2 linked regions of the Homo sapiens genome follow. The protein of the gene in region 1 purifies or fractionates together with the protein of each later gene. This does not show direct contact. Each region holds a gene or a part of one and is shown in the gene's direction. Other genes may lie near its edges.

Evidence for each region.
Region 2: the proteins of RANBP3L (region 1) and SPRTN purify together in Homo sapiens (affinity purification with mass spectrometry; 2 studies listed by BioGRID and IntAct, with this or other methods). This does not show direct contact.

What each region holds. Positions count from the first base shown.
Region 1 is NC_000005.10:36,256,334-36,265,197, reverse strand, and holds part of RANBP3L (ran-binding protein 3-like), read left to right. Parts: intron 1-99; coding exon 100-239; intron 240-3,155; coding exon 3,156-3,259; intron 3,260-4,333; coding exon 4,334-4,418; intron 4,419-7,641; coding exon 7,642-7,744; intron 7,745-8,126; coding exon 8,127-8,257; intron 8,258-8,864. UniProt on the Homo sapiens protein: Nuclear export factor for BMP-specific SMAD1/5/8 that plays a critical role in terminating BMP signaling and regulating mesenchymal stem cell differentiation by blocking osteoblast differentiation to promote myogenic differention.
Region 2 is NC_000001.11:231,347,467-231,356,330, forward strand, and holds the end of SPRTN (DNA-dependent metalloprotease SPRTN), read left to right. Parts: intron 1-330; coding exon 331-459; intron 460-3,837; coding exon 3,838-4,105; coding exon of another isoform or gene 4,106-4,140; exon of another isoform or gene 4,141-5,143; coding exon 5,144-5,895; 3' UTR 5,896-7,557; downstream 7,558-8,864. UniProt on the Homo sapiens protein: DNA-dependent metalloendopeptidase that mediates the proteolytic cleavage of covalent DNA-protein cross-links (DPCs) during DNA synthesis, thereby playing a key role in maintaining genomic integrity.

The sequences.
Region 1 (8,864 bases):
AACATGACTTTAGAAAATAAGAATTATATTAATTAAAAATAGGGAGTAAAGGAATATTTCAGTAAACATATATTTATCCTTTAATTCTATTCTTTTAAGGTCCTGTGAAACATTCTAAACATGTTATTAGACCTGCTATTTTGCAGCTACCTCAAGCTCGAAGTTGTGCAAAAGTAAGAAAAACATTTGGACACAAGGCACTGGAATCTTGCAAGACTAAAGAAAAAACAAATAATAAGGTGAGAAAGCCCAGGATAACGGAACTGACCTCAATCCCTCATCTTTCTTTTTGCAGGTTGTTTGGGGCCCCCATATCCAGAAATAGGAGTTGTCTGAGCTTTGTTTTGTTGTTGGGCTAGATAGCATAAAGCCCTTGGTAAACTTTTCAAAGTTGTACTCTGACATTGGAGAGTTGTAGTCTCACAAATCTGTGGTCTCTCTAAAGTTGTAAAGTTGAGTACTGGGTAGTGGAAATCTGGGGGTCTTGTGCCAGAGCAATGACCCTGTGTGAGAATGGGGACAGCAATGAGGGAGCCAGGGGCCAGAGTCAGTAGTCAAAAAAGAGGCAGGGATTTTCTCTACATCGCCAACTGGTCAACATCACAGTGTATCGTTGCCAGTTTAGGTCATACCAGAGGTTCATTTCAGAGCCAAATTCCAGTATAACAGGAGCAGAGAACTCCCTATACAGTGTAGTTGGGAGGGTTTGGGAAGCCTCTAGAGACAGATAAGAATTCTAACTTCCAACTATGTAGTGTCTGAATCACTCTTTGTAGGCCTTTCTAAACAGACAGTAACTTACACAAGCCGTGCAGATATGGGTTTGGGGATATATTCAATTGCTGTAGTGCTACCTGTCTTCCAGCAGAAGCAGACACAGGAGGAATAGGACTCAAGATAGGTAGGTTGGAATTTGAGAGTTATTCCATCTTAGCCATTTGTTTCCAGCTGAACTACTGAGGATTGGTCACATAGTTTCGCTTTGTTTTCCCTTAGTGAACATAAGGACAGAAACACGGAAGTGTAAAAAAATACCAGATTGGTACTAATCTTGCCTCTGCTGCTATCTTTGTTTATCTAAACAAAGCACCCATTCAACATCTTTTTATATCAGCAAAGTAAGGGACTTGAACTTGATCAGCACTTTCCAATATTTTTATATTCCTAAACTCTTTACTTTGTAAGATATTATTTGGAGAGATCCATTATGAATTTAAAAAATCATTTCATCATTTATGCATGCTATATAAGTAATTTTTAAGTAAAACATGTCTTCAATTTTAGATAAGTATATTATTGTTTTCACTTAAATATAATGTAATAATTATCACCATGTTACATAATTCCTTACTTTTATTTAAGAAGTGAAGTGGCCAGGCGTGGTGGCTCACTCTTTTAATCCTAGCACTTCGGGAGGCCGAGATGAGTGGATCTCTTGAGCTAAAACGTTCCAGACAAGCCTAGGCAATATAGTAAAACACTGTCTTTACAAAAAATACAAAAATTAGCTGGGCATGGTGGCATGTGCCTGTAGTCCTAGCTTGAACCCGGGAAGTGGAGGTTGCAGTGAACCGAGATGGTACCAGCCTGGTGACAGAGCCAGACTGTCTCAAAAAAGAAAAGAGAAAAAAGAAGTGATGCATGGTGTTTAACTTGTTTTAAATTATGTAATAGAAAGTATAATATGTTGACTAATTTCTAAAAAGTTATATTGCATTTGATTTTAAAATGGCATGCACTATAAATATAGAGCAAGATTTTAATTACATGTTATGACATCAAAAATACATCAATATTTCTTTCTTGGCAGAATTTTTGTAAATATTGCATTGCATATTTTAAAATAAAATTTATTAATATATTTCTTCCATTTTCTTCTTAAATGATCCAAGCTTAAGAGAAAATTTCAAGCTATTGTTTATATTTATTTTTGAATAAATTATAAGGTCTAGGGAATAAACCTTATTTCCAGTTATTGAAAAGCCCTACTGTATATGCCCATCATTAAAAAGAAAATTTAATGCCCATCATTAAATTTTCCATTTATTGATCTTTGAAGATCCAGAGACACACTGTATATAAGATCCTATGTAAGAATTTTGACCAAATGAATGTAATTTAAAGATTTTGTGAAAACTATCTCTAGGTGGATTTTGTAGAACCATTATCTTTATATTTCTTATTATCTTGTATATCAAAATCAGATAAATTATTTTCATCCTATCATTAATCAATGGTTACTTACTATGTATAGATTAAACAATATATGCCTAAATAACTATTTTAACCAACATAGGAGTGAAAACTACCATTTTGGCTGAGAGATACATTATCTGAATGACTAGGTAATGAGCATGTACTTCGATCTTTGCCAACCATGGCACATGCTCTCTTGATACATATTTGTCAGTTGTCAAACTCTTGTTAAAAAAGAAAAAGTACTCAAAATTATTTTTATTGATTGAAATAAAAATTTAAGTGGAAACATAACCCATCTGGCTTTAAAAGACACAAACGCCCTGAAACATCTTTGCAAATTCCTGGTCGAGGAAGGAATTGTAAATACTAGATCAGATAATGTATAGGGTTCCTTCCAATTCTAAATTTCCTCACTCTTACATTTATATATTAATTCAGGTATTGTGCATACACATATGTACATAAGGCAAAGTAACTGGATAAGTTACTAGTTGAAAATTTCAAGATAAATAGATGAGTGGGGTTTTCTCTCACATTGGGTGACTAGGATGGTGACATTCTTAGGGTGTTTCCCAGGATTAAATAGTCCTGAAAAGAGCTTTACTAATCCAGAAATGAGAATTAACCCAATTTGACTAAAATGGCAAAAATAAACAAAACATGGTGGGATTTCTGAATATTATGATATTCCGGTATTAGACAGATCGCCACTGTATGTGACCTGGGCAAATTATTTAAGTTTTTTGTGTCAGTTTACTCACCTGTAAAATGTGGACAATAGAATTACAAAGTGTTAGAGTTGTAAGGAGTAAATGAGATCGTACATAAAATGCTTAAGGCAGTACTTAAACATAGTAAGCTTTCAATATATTTAACTATAACTATTGTTTCCTTGTCTGATGGTCCTATAGTAAGGTAGTCTTTATAAACTTTTTGATGGATTTCTTTACTTTCAGATTTCTGAGGGAAATTCCTATTTGTTAAGTGAAAATTTATCAAGGGCTAGAATTTCAGTCCAGCTGTCTACTAACCAGGACTTTTTAGGTGCAACATCAGTAGGGTAAGTTAATGAGAAAATAGAAGCGTTGTCCTTTCATTCTTGCATTCTTTCATTATTATAACCATTCATGGAAAATAATTTTCTGACCTTGTACGGATAAATTGCCAAGATTCCCATTTGAAAGGAGATTTTATAGGAAACACAAGTTTAAAATGTTTTTAAAAATATTTCGATTCTTAAATATTATCATATTAATACTGGATTGTCTTCATTGTTTCATTAACTTGGGTGAGAACTTTTTGAAAATGTATGGCTAAACTTTTATTTAGTTGGACATAAATTATCTGATTAGTAGATTAGGCTCTCTTCCTCTCTCTCTAGCATTTTTTTCTTTTATTTTGGCATTATACATTATTTATTGGCATAGGTTAGATAAGCAACAAGGAAAGCAGTATAAATCTGCAATATTTATTAGTATTACTAGTGATGGATAAATGTTTGATCTGAGAGGTTAAAACTAGCTGTGGATATAAACTGACTCACATGACTGGGCTCTGTCCAGGTGCGGTAGCAGGTGCCTTCTATGTGCATTGGGGATGCAATGCCGAACCCTGAGCACATCTGTCTACAAAGAGCGGGCTTCCGGTCTTCGAGTTTCTCATCATGAAAAACACTTTTAACATTAAAAAAAAGTTTCTGGGAGGCAAAAAATTTAAGCCAATGCACACTCAATTATAACAGACAGGGTTTCGCTTTTGCCCTGGAGATCTCTGGTTGCTAAAACATCAGCCACTTGAGGAAGAGAAGAGGGGAAATTAGATACTAGACAGGGTGTGTTGGAAAAGCAAAAGGGGTTGGGAAGCCCTCCTGGCTGACCACACAGCCAGTGCAGTGATGGGCATGAGGCAGTCAGGACTGGTCTCTGCCAGTGCTGTAAGAGCTGGAAACTATTTTGACAATCACCTCTGGATGCCACTATCTGAATTTTTCCTTCATTTTTCATTAAATTCACACTAACAAAAGTGAGCAGTAAATTTGATTTACATAAATCTATTAAATTATCTGATTATTTCAAGGTTTAAAATGGCTTTATCTATGTATTTAAAATAGTAAATGCTTATTTCATTTTCTTAGATGTCAACCAAATGAAGATAAATGTTCTTTTAAAAGCTGCAGTTCCAATTTTGTTTTTGGAGAAAACATGGTAGAAAGAGTTTTGGTAAGATTTTGGTATATGTTTCTATTACTATATACAGAGCTGTCACTTTAAATTTCTAAAGGTAAATTAATTAAAAGTAATATTAAATTGAATTATACTTTTTAACTCCTGAGTTCAAACGCACATTTTCTTTCTTTAACTGGAAAGATTCTCCTGGGAAGCATGTCCTAGTTGTTAAAATAATAGAAACCCACAGAGGAAGGGAACTGTATAATTATAACATTATTACTGATGTGAAATATTAAATAGTTCTTTGACTTGTGTTAAACCAAAAGTACCCAAGGAAATCCCAGAATCATCTGCAATAGTTAGATAAGCTCAGTTGGTAATGATAGTTTAATAGTTTGTCGATGTCATCATTTTGTAACAAGATGCATTTAAAATTATTTGCCAGTTTGGTTTTTTTTTTTTTTTTTTTTGAGACAGAGTCTCGCTCTGTCACCCAGGCTGGAGTGCAGTGGTCCGATCTCTGCTCACTGCAACCTCCGCCTCCTGGGTTCAAGTGATTCTCCTGCCTCAGCCTCCTGAGTAGCTGGGACTACAGGCGCGTGCCACCACACCTGGCTAATTTTTTTTTTTTTTGTATTTTTAGTAGAGATGGGGTTTCACTGTCTTAGCCAGGATGGTCTCGATCTCCTGACCTCGTCATCTGCCCACCTCAGCTTCCCAAAGTGCTGGGATTATAAGCTTGAGCCAATTTGTTCTTATCAGTTAACCACAACCCTAACTTCAAGCTCTTACATCAAAAAGCATTATTATAACTTTCTTTTGCTAGCTTTCAGAGAAAATTCATAGTGCTTTACTTGCCTAGGAGAATATACTTGCCTAGTGAAAACCCCTCACGTTATTACCATCATCCTTATTTAATGTTCAGCATCCTCTTGCAATGAGGTAACTGCTTCTCTGATCCCCACAGAACTCTGATCTACAGTGGAAAATTTTACAGAAAAGTGAAAGCTGTGGAAAACCATGCCTATGGTTTTATCTGGTCCATCACATCTTCATACCTTTTCCAGCTTTCACTCAAGTCAGGAAAGTGGCTGAGATAGCTCGAACGTGCCTAGCTTGTCTCAGGGATACCAGTTACATGAAGAATCCCAAAGAAGCTGCAGAGATTTAAAAACCCATGTACGGATTTAGATTAATAAAAGAACCAACTCGTTAAGCCAGTTCATTCCATTTTTTTTTTTTTTTTTTAAGATGAGGTCTTGCTCTTTCACCTAGGCTGGAGTGCAGTGGCACGATCTCGGCTCACTGCAACCTCTGTCTCCCTGGCTCAAGGGATCCTCCCACTTCAGCCTCCCGAGTAGGTGGGACCACAGGCACGTACCACCACACCTGGCTAACTTTTTGTATTTTTGGTAGAGACGGGGTTTCACCATGTTGCCAGGCTGGCCTCAAATTCCTGAGCTCAAGCGATCCACCCGCCTCAGGCTCCCTAAGTGCTGGGATTATAGGCATGAGACACTGCGCCCAAACTCATTACAAAATTTTTAGGGCTTTCATATGTTAGTCATTTTAAAGGCTTAGTTTATTTAGGAACCCTTCTGTCATTCCCAAAATGAAGGTCAACTCACCAATCCTAGAGCTGTGACCTATGCCTTTGGATGTGAACCAAAATGGACCAGCCTCCATGGTGAATTTACAGGCAGTATATTTAGGCACATTTATTCCATATCATTTATTTCTAAGTTTGACACCAGATTAGCCACAGTGTCTGTAAAATGTCAGACAATGCTTTCCAAACCTCACAGGATCAACTTAACATTCAACTCAATTTACCAAACATGTACTGAGTTCTTACGGTATATAAAGCATTGATCTCAAATTTGGCTGCCTGTTAGAATCATTCTTTTAAGGATTTCCTATGCCTGGCCTCATCCCAGACCAATTAGCTCAGAATGCCTGTGGGTGAGGCCAGGTGTCAAGTGATTCCAATGTACAGGCAGGTTTGAAAACCACCTAAGTGGTTATGCAAGCTAAAGGAGACACTGGGCCCTAAAGGTGCTTATAATCTAATAAGAGCAGGCAGAGAGATACCTATACAAATAAACTATAGTCAGGACTACGGGTTTTGTTTGAGAAGGCACTTGTGCACATTTCCTGTGGGCATTTTAAATGCTTAAAGGAACCTCAACTTATAAAGGCTTATAAAGGAACCTGAACTATCTCTTTAAGTTGGTAATATCTTAAGGATAACAGGAATTATAGAGATAATTTGTGTTTGTCCTCTAATCCTGTAAATTTTTGGCCTTGTGATTTGGGGGCCAGGATGCACTCTTGGCTTATTGGCTGACTATGTGTTTTTAGAGTGAGTCATTTAAACTTTCTGTGCCTCAGTTTCTATTTTCTTAAAATGGAAATAATTATACCCATCTCTACCAATTTTGAGGGAATATCTTGATGTCTAGTTAAGTAATGTGAAAGAATTTTCAGTTCATAAGGGAAAAAATGTAAGCCTAAGTTCTTAAGTATCATTGTTCCAGTTCTCTGTGTTTTGCAGAGGGCTACACATTATCACAAATGTCATGTCAATTAGTCTTTTTTTGTGCAGGCCTTGATTACAACAGACATACAGAGCCCCAAGTAGCCTTAAAAGCTACTGTTGGCAAAATCGTCTGGGAGGAAAAGTTAGGATTTTTTCTAAAAAGATGTTCTCTGAGACATCTTGTGGGGGTCTCTGGATAACTTTTTTGTTTTTTTCCATAAAGTGGATAGCAAGAGTAAATTTCTGGGGATACTGAAATACCTTGGTATATGTTTCTATTACTATATACAGAGCTGTCACTTTAAATTTCTAATGGTAAATTAATTAAAAGTAATATTAAATTGAATTATACTTTTTAACTCCCGAGTTCAAAGGCACATTTTCTTTCTTTTCTTTCTTTTGTACCTCCTGGGCATCAGTTTAGTCTAGTGAGAGTGTGGAACATCTATTACCTTCTTTTGTGCCCTTAGACCTTTCCCATTGCCTCCGGGACTAGATCCCACCTGAAGTAGGCTGGTGGTAACTAGATTATGTTTTCTGAGGATTAGAACTAAGGCTTTCTAACAATAGAGACGATTTCTCTGTTCAGCACACAGAAAGTCCAAAACAAAAACATACCAGCTAGGTTTGCTTGCTGTGTTGAAACAGAAAAACGGAAGTGTCTTACTGCAAACATAGTAGGGATAAAATTAAAACTTTTATTAAATAAAATAATGCATCTTTTTCCGCTCTCAGGGTACTCAAAAACTCACCCAGCCTCAACTTGAAAATGATTCATATGCCAAGGAAAAACCATTCAAATCCATTCCGAAATTTCCTGTCAACTTTTTAAGTTCAAGTAAGAATTCTTTCATTTGTAAAACATTAGATTCACCTAGTTTGTCTCCTGTTTTTTATTTATTAACATTAATATTTAATATAAGTAAAATTAATATTTACTATAAGATTTAAAAAACCAATAATCCAGTGTTTCAAATATTTTGGTAAAGGTTAAAGCATATAAATATGATTATCTGATATATAAGCTTTAAAAATTTTTTGAGTTAATGCTATGGGGGAATTGATAAGGAGATTTTACACCAACTCAAGCAGTCTGAATTTTTAGAATCACTTACTACTAGAAGAAGCCAAGTAGATATATGTGGTAATAGGGGCAACAAAGAACTTTCACAGTAGAGAAAATGGGGACTTTTAAGTGTTTTTTCCCCATTTTCTCTTAGGAACAGACTCTATTAAAAATACTTCCCTAATTGAATCAGCTGCTGCATTCTCTTCCCAACCATCACGAAAATGCTTGCTGGAGAAAATTGATGTTATAACAGGGGAGGAAACAGAACATAATGTGTTAAAGGTCTGTATATCATGTTTTACTCTTTCTGGTAGCATTTACATACTTGGAATAAAGTTAACATGAGAAGAGGCATCTTTAAAAATACAGACAGAAGTATAGTTTTCATGGAGACTAAGTTGCTTAAATAAAAATGTTGGATGCTCTCAAAAATTGAACCAATAATTTATTTTCTTCTTGTGTTTGTATGTGTACCTGGCAGGAAAATGGGTTGTTAGGTTTACAACTATTCACATTAGTCCCTTAGAAATAAGACAGCCAAGTATCCTGCTTTAATACTTGCTTTTACAATTGGTGCTATTATTGTGATTAAATAATTCTACTTACACGTTTAACAATGTTGATAACTTGATTTCAGTCCAATAAGAATTTCGTTTTCCTTCTAAAAAAGTTTAGAATTTCATATAAAATTTAGCTTCCTTTAAAAAAGTTTAGAATTTCATGTAATTCAAGAATTTCACAGATACACACTACAGTATCACAGGATTTTAATGTTGAGTAGTATCACCATCAGCACAAGCACATGAAATGTAATTACTACAACTTTACCCTTTCCCAACAAGGCAGAAATTTCCCTTTGCCTTTCTCCATCTGCTTTTCTCTAAACTCT
Region 2 (8,864 bases), on another chromosome or scaffold:
CCTCCCACCTCAGCCTCCTGAGTGTAGCTGGGATTACAGGCATGCACCACCACACCTGGCTAATTTTTGTATTTTTTTGTAGAGACAGGGTTTCGCCATGTTGCCCAGGTTGGTCTCCAACCCCTGGGCTCAAGTGACCCTCCCACCTTTGCCTCCCAAAGTGTTGGGATTACAGGTGTGAGCCACTGCACCCGGCCTAGAATGAGTTTTATCAGTTCTGAAGGAAGCCTGTGATACAGAAAAGGTTAGACACCAGATAGAATAAGAAAATTTATATTTTCCAAAGTGTCATACAGACTCTAAAACTAATTTGAATATTTTATGTTCCAGACCCTCCTGCATGAAATGATACATGCCTATTTATTTGTCACTAATAACGACAAAGACCGAGAAGGGCATGGTCCAGAATTTTGTAAACATATGCATCGCATCAACAGCCTGACTGGAGCCAATATAACGGTATAGAAAGCCATATCTATTTATGATGTTTAGTAGTTGTTTATTCAATAACTCCTGAGATTTAATTAAAAGTAGAGAACTAGGTAGAAACAAGTATCTTTGAGGATTTTCCACAGCGAACGAGAGGCCTAGAGAAGCAAATTGGCTTGTCTGGGACTACATGGTGGAATGGCAGCAGAGCCAGTGATATCCCTGAGGCCTCTGACCTCTTCTGAGTCAACATTTTACACACAGGTAATTCAGGCCTGCAGTACGTCACTTCTGGAATCATCATGATCTCTTAACTTTGTTTCCTTATTATTGTCTTTTTTAGTCCATCCTGTATCCTGCTACCATTGCAGATGTCATTCCCTCATCAGAATTCTTCTTTGATTCATATCTCTGTATAGCATTGTAGGAGATAGCAAAGCCTCAGGTTCAAAAAGCTGGAGGCGTCAGGCTGCTTGGATTCAAATCCTGGCTCCACCAATTATTAACTTTCCTATGCCTCATTTTATACCCATGGCAAATGAGAGTAGTAACAATACCTATCTGTTGGATCCTTGTGAGGAGAAAGGATTAAAGGAGAAAGCACATCAAAACATTTTAGCCCAATCTGACACTAATTAAATATTAGTTTTATTGTATTCATTTTATTAAATAACCTTGTTCCTTTTTTACTGCCTCCAACTCTGCTGCCTGTGTCCTGTCTCTTTAACTGCACTTTTGACCTCCCTGCCTTTCCTCAGGTGTAGCTTCCCTGAGGCGTGCCACTGCTCTGTTTTGTGTCCGAATGCTTTTCATCGTTCCAGTGGCATCTCATTTCTCCCTCTTTTGAATCCTCAGCAGATATTTAAGCTATTACAATTTTTTATGCTACTTTCATACTTTTGAACGCAGGGTAGGTCTTGCCCATCTTTATAGTACATCTGTATAAGGTGTATAATGTACTGAATTGAATATTAATAGGATAGATTAAATTCTTTCTTATGTTTGGGTATTTCCTTCCTTTAAAAGGCAACAAAATCCACTGTGATAGAAAATGAACAGTGCTCAACCGCCATGTTTTGTTTATTTATTTATTTAAGATAGGGTCTTGCTCTGTTGCCCAGGCTGGATGCAGTGGTGCATTCATAGCCCACTGCAGATTCAACCTCCTGGGCTTAAGTGATCCTCCCACCTCAGCCTCCTGAGTAGCTGGGGCTACAGATGTGTGCCACCATGTCAAGCTAATTTAAAAAAAAATTTTTTTTTTTAGAGACAGGGTCTCACCATGTTGCCCAGGCTGGTCTTGAACTCATGGGTTCAAGTGATCCTCCCATCTCAGCCTCCCAAAGTGGTGGGATTATAGACATGAGCTACCATGCCTGGCCTCTCCATGTATTACTATTTTCTAGCTATCAGTTTTAATTTTCTAAAGACTTCATTTCATTATTAGACACAGTTACTTCAACATTAGGAAAGTGTCTTGCAGTTTTTAAAAAAATCAGACATAAAATCCGGGTTAGCAAGAGAATTATAGACTTGCTTGTATAAAATACATTAAGTTTCTTAACCAGAACTTATACTTTAAGCAAAGCCCTTGTATACGTCCCATTGTTCAGCTGGAAGAGTATCTGTTCTTTTATCTTAGATATCTGTGTGTTTTTATTTAGGAGAGGTTGTAAGGAGTGAACACTCCTTGCTTTTACAGGTTACATCCTGTTATAAGGAACTCTGCAGGGTATCTACATTGTAGAGTAATTTTATTTTAGTGACTACATTGTTAAAAGTCACATTCCCAAGCGTTAGGAGTTACAGGAATTGGAAGCAGAACAGATCCAGGCTGGGTGTGGTGGCTCACGCCTGTAATCCCAGCACTTTGGGAGGCCGAAGTGGGAGGGTAACTTGAGCCCAGGTGTTTGAGATCAGCCTGGGCAATTTAGTGAGACCTTGTTTCCACAAAAAAAATTCAAAAATTAGCTAATCGTGGTAGCTCACGCCTGTATTCGCGGCTACTCGAGAGGCAGAGGTGGAAGGATCACTTGAGCCTGGGAGGCGGAGGTTGCAGTGAGCCAGGTTCATGCCACCTCACTCCAGCCTGGGCAAACAGAGCAAGTCCATGTCACAGAACAAACAAACAAAACAGATCCATTTGTCTCTCTTTTTGGGTAATGAATTAAGAGTTCTGAACATAATAGAGTGCGTGGTTTCCCGTGCTTCTTTGCCTTAAAACCTATGTCCTTCAGTCCCTTCTGCATTTAATATAATGTGCATTCTTTGCATGCTTACCAAGTAGAAATTTTTTGCTTAGGATGGAGCGATAGTGAGTTTAAAACTATCTATAGAGTTATAGAAAGCTTAGCATTCTTTCCCACAAGGGGAATTTATTAGAAAGCTAAATGTCTTTGGTAAAACACCAAAATCTTACATACAGATGCTTCTCACTCTTACACAGAGAGTTCCACTGAGAAGGCAGAAGAATAAGGTGCCCATAGTCATTTAGGAGTCATTTCAAATGGTGCTCTATAGTCTTCAGTGCCACCATGCTGGGAGGGCTGACCCTCTTTTCAGTCAGGTCTTTTCCCTTACCTGTTTTCTGCTTGGGTTCCAAATAGGATTTTTGTCTAGAGGGTGAAAAAGAAGGCATCCTACTTAAGGCCTGAAAAGCACACTTCAGAGAATTTTATTTGACTCAATGAATGATGCTTTTCTGACTGAGCACCTTCTTGGTGCCAAAAGCACTATATTAGCCACTAGGGACACAAAAAATTAAAACATTCAGATCCTGGAGAACTTTTCAGTCTGGTAATAGAAATATTTATAAACAGATAAAATGGTACCTCATAAGGCTTATTACAGAGACATAAGCACAGAACTTGGAGAATGTGGAGAGTGAGCTTAGCAGAAGCTTCACTGGGTAAGATACTTGTGTTGTTAGCGTCAGTCAGGCATTTATAGGGAGTAATGTAGTCCTTTAGAACCCTTTGCTATTTTTACTTATAGGGAAAACTTCAATTTAGCAGTGGGAATGATTCTTATTTTAGTATGGTATTACATAAAATCTTATCTTTATCCTAATTTTTGATCATTTACAAATTTGATTTCTGAAACTTTTAGTGTTCATGAAGATTTTCTGTGGTTTTGTTTTTAAAAGATTTTTTTGTCCTCTAATCCCATGTGCATCTATCTTTACACAGTTTATGAAGTATTAACTGCTGCTGTTTCCCATTAAAATCAACTTTTGAACAGAAACTAAATATAGTTGCTTTCTCTCCTAAAATAGAACTTTTCAGAAAGCTCTGGGAAAGTTTCAAAAATTAAAAAAAAAAAAAAAAAAAAAAAAGACTGCTTATGTAAATTGTTTTCTTGCAGTTGTTAACTTGCTTATTGAATACTAAAAATTCTGTCTCCACTCAGGTATACCATACTTTTCACGATGAGGTGGATGAGTATCGGCGACACTGGTGGCGCTGCAATGGGCCGTGCCAGCACAGGCCACCGTATTACGGCTATGTCAAACGAGCTACTAACAGGGAACCCTCTGCTCATGACTATTGGTGGGCTGAGCACCAGAAAACCTGTGGAGGCACTTACATAAAAATCAAGGAACCAGAGAATTACTCAAAAAAAGGCAAAGGAAAGGCAAAACTAGGAAAGGAACCAGTATTGGCCGCAGAGAATAAAGGTACCTTCGTGTATATTCTTCTGATTTTTATGTGACCATAGCTATGATGTAAAGACAATACTGTCCTTCAGAGAACTGGTATTAAGATAAACTTAAGGATCGTTTCTGGTGTAGAAGTCTTCAAGTGTAGACTTAAGGAAAAAATCCCACTGTCCATGAAATGATGGTAGGAAAACAGACTTTGCTCTGTACAGAAGTAAGTAAAAGTAGGAATAGTTTCCATGGATATTTTTATTTTTATTAACTTTTTTCAGTTTCTTTTTATTCAAAGAAACAAAATTCAATCTCTGATAATATTTGAGGTAAAGTTCCTTTCCCTATCTTGACTCACTGAGTTATTAGGAAACAGAAGGCAAAAAGATTGTCAAAATAAAAACAATAATTCAAGTAACAATGCCCGGAATATACGTCCTAACTACACCCCTTCCTATCAGCTGGATTCTATCCAAGTGACTCTATTGATGTATGTATGTTCATTCAAAGAATGGGAAAAGGATATGACATATATTTGCCAGTACTTCATCTTCAAGATTTACCCTTTTCCTGTGAAGTTCAGAGTTACTGAAGATGCTTCTTCCCTTGGGAAGTTGTTGACCCAAGAACATAGGTTATATTTCCCAAATCTTTAATTATTGAGTGAAAGAGCTATAGATGAATTGATATGGAAAGACCGTATCTTCATTTTCGTGAGTAGAAGGAAAGATAAGAATGAGGCAGCAGATTTTCCCTCCTGGAATTACACATAAAGGACACTAAGCAATTTTCAAGGTAAATGTTGCCTTGTTGTTGGTCTTTGGCATGATAAGATTCTTTATTTAAATATGAGAGAATTTTTTTTTATCCTTTATATTCTCTCAATATCAGAACTCCTGAATTCTGAAGATTGCCCTCCTCCCATTAATAGGATTGTATGGATGTAAGATGGAATAAAATACTAGTTCTTCATTTTGAGAAAACTGTACATTAGTTTAATGTTTGTTACTGTATTTCTTTTGAGTTGAGGCACTTACATAACAATCTTCTTTGCTTTTTTGGCAGATAAACCCAACAGAGGTGAGGCCCAGCTAGTAATCCCTTTTAGTGGGAAAGGATATGTTCTAGGAGAAACAAGCAATTTACCTTCACCTGGGAAACTGATCACTTCACATGCCATTAATAAAACCCAAGATCTTTTAAATCAAAACCATTCAGCAAATGCTGTAAGACCTAATTCTAAAATCAAGGTGAAATTTGAACAGAATGGTTCAAGTAAAAATTCTCATCTGGTCTCCCCTGCTGTTAGTAACAGTCACCAAAATGTTCTAAGCAACTACTTTCCTAGAGTATCATTTGCCAACCAAAAGGCTTTCAGAGGTGTGAATGGATCTCCAAGGATAAGTGTAACAGTTGGCAACATCCCTAAAAACTCAGTCTCTTCTAGTTCTCAGAGAAGGGTTTCATCTTCTAAGATATCCCTAAGAAATTCTTCAAAAGTAACGGAATCAGCATCTGTGATGCCATCCCAGGATGTGAGTGGGTCTGAAGATACATTCCCAAATAAACGACCTAGGCTAGAAGATAAGACTGTTTTTGACAATTTTTTTATCAAGAAAGAGCAAATAAAAAGCAGTGGTAATGATCCAAAGTATAGTACAACCACAGCTCAGAATTCCAGCAGTTCATCCAGTCAGAGCAAAATGGTTAATTGCCCAGTTTGTCAGAATGAAGTTCTGGAGTCTCAGATTAATGAGCACTTGGACTGGTGCCTTGAAGGTGACAGCATCAAAGTCAAAAGCGAAGAAAGTCTTTGAAAAAGGTTTCAAAGTCTCAAGTACCACCTGTATTATCTCACTAATGTGCTATGTCAGCCAGTCAGGAAGTTCTGGTTAATACTAAGATTTGTAGGTTATAATCTAGTTCACATAACCAATAGAAAGTGTCCTATTTTATATATACGCATATAAGATTGTAATTTTAAGATGTTTTGTGTCTCAGGGTGCTACATTCACTCTTGCCTTAGGTATACTGTAACCCAGGTTCTGCCTGTCGTGTATAAGTTTTAGATACTTTTGTTCTTTCTTGCTCTTAAGGATTTTAAAAACCTGTTAATCTTTTTATTTGTATACTTTCCTAAAAATATTCATATGGGGAATCCTGTCAGGTGTTTGGTTATATTGACTATTTATTAATAGTATTAGAACTCATTCCCTGAACTGATGTAAATCTTCATAGTGTCAGACATACTGACCAAAACCACAATCTAGACTACAAAGTATATTGTTTTAGAGTACTCAAATTGTATTATTTATTAATTTTTTTGTTTGCAAAATCTTAACAGGAACTGTATTTTCTATATTTTAAAGAATTTTATTTGTCCCACTTTTACTAAACAGTGGCAGCAGATTTTAAGTTAAAGAATATGGAATATAGTAAAATAAGTAAATTTCTTTTGGAATATTTTTAGTAACAAATAGCCACTATAATTCTGTAGGCCAAATTTTATATTGAGTTTAGCTGTTTTCTCAAAATTTAGCAGAGTGGTTAAAATTCTGTGCTGATAAGTAACTGATACATATAACATAAACATAACAAAGTTGCCTAGTTGATGTAACAGTGGAAAGTTATCTGGAAATAGTATTTTGAACTTTAAGCCAAGTTTAAAACATTATAATAAAAGGAATACCATTTGTGCATTTTAAGTAATCTTTTTTAAAAAAAATATTTTCCATGTTATAGGGAAAGGACAAAGAGACTTTTATCAGTTTGCTTTTTGTCTTGTGGCTGTACATGCTGTTGGCATAGCCCTAACACAGTTGTTCACAAGTTTTCTTTTTTCTTGTTGCAATTTTCCTTCACTTTGTTGTAATACAGGTGCACAAATCTTAAGTGCACAGCTGGGTAAACTTTTACAGTGTTCACCTGTGTAACTACCACCCGGATCAAGTTAGAGAACACTTCCATTGCCACAGAAGGCTTCCTATAGGTGTCTGTTCCCAGTTGATACCCATGACCCTCACCACCTCCAGAGGTCCCCACTGTTTTCACCCCATCGTCGCAGATTATTTTTTAATTTTATAATGTAGTATCTTTGTTCCTATGTATAGCAGGAGTTCATTTTCATTGCTCTTGCATTTGTATGAATATACTAGAATTTATTCATCCATTCTAATGTTAATGGACATTTGAATTATTTCCAGTTTGGGGCTGTTAAGCATAATGCTGCTAAGAACATTCTTATCTTTTCTGTTGGGTATATATACAGGAATGGAATTGCTGAGTCACGGGGTATATTTCTGTTTAGCTTTAGTAAATTCTGCCAGTTTACACTCCTACCAGCAATGTATGAGAGTTTTAGTTGTTCACCATTCATAACACTGTTAGCAGCCCTTTTCGTTTTAGACTGGTTGGCTGTTCACAAATTTTGATATTCCTTAAAGCATTAAAACATTTTAATAAATACTTATAAATAGGTATTAAAATGTATATTATGTTCAATATATAGTTATATTTTCATAGAGGATCATTTCTCTAAATGAATGTAACAAATTATGTGTAATTAAATGCTTCCTGAGCCAAAACCACACAAGGTTCTGGGGCTGTGAAGTAGCTGAGATGGTCCATGTCCTCAAGGAGCTTTACAGCATAGTTGGGGAGTAAGACAAATGCACATTAATCTCCTTAGAGTTTGCTAAGTGCTATGACAAGGGTTTTTGCTGGGTGCTGTGGGTAAACTGTAGGAAGAAAAATTAGCTCTGCCCAGGACTTCGGGGGATGTTTCTTGGAGGAGACAACATCCAAAGTTGAATCATGTAGAGTGAGTCGAGTTAGCCTGGTTAAAGAAGGGTGGGGAAGAACCTTTCAAAGGGAAGAAGGAACACAAAGTCATGTTCCGAGGGAACTGAATGCTATTCCAAGTGAATAGAGTAAAATGTGAGGGGCAAAATGGCCAAAGGAGAGATGGCAGATAGGACAGATCTAGCTAAGTAGTACAAGTTTGAGGCCAGGGATCTCATGTTCCTCACTTTATGTCTGGTTTGTGTGATACCTGCTAATAAGCATCTCTTAATTAAGGTGGGGCTTGGAAAGGCTTATAAGCCAGTCGAGGACATGTTGAGAAGTGTTTCCAATGGATTTTTCTGGGGACAGCATAGATAAGAGGGGGAAGGGTAGTGGCAGGGAGGGAGAGGAAGAGACAATTTTTTGAGAAACAGGTAGTAAAGTCAGGAGTTGGTTTCAGGTTCTAGGGAATGATGGAAATAGTTGAGAAAATGGAACTCAATTTGAAATAAGCCTTACTACATCTGTTAAACACTTGAGAAAATTTGCACCCTAAAAATTCTGATATTCCCCCAAATATGTCATTCATAATAGAGACATAGTTTTGTTTCTGTTTAGATTTTCCCTTTTAAAGCCAACTTCCCAACTTAGAAGCAGAGCTGGTAATTCTGGCTCAATCCTTAAATGCTATCCCCCTGCTGTGGGGACATGGGGTCTAGATTCTGTTTTTATAAAACGGTGGGTTTTGGGTTTTTGTTTTGTTTTTTGAGATGGAATCTTGCTCTGTGGCCCAGGCTGGAGTGCAGTGGCACAATCTCGGCTCACTGCAACCTCCGCCTCCGGGGTTCAAGCAATTCTCCTGCCTCAGCCTCCCAAGTAGCTGGGATTAAAGGCGAGCGCCACCACACCTGGCTAATTTTTGTATTTTTAGTAGAGATGGGGGTTTCACCTTGTTGGCCAGACTGGTCTCAAACTCCTAACCTCAAGTGATCTGTCTGCCCTC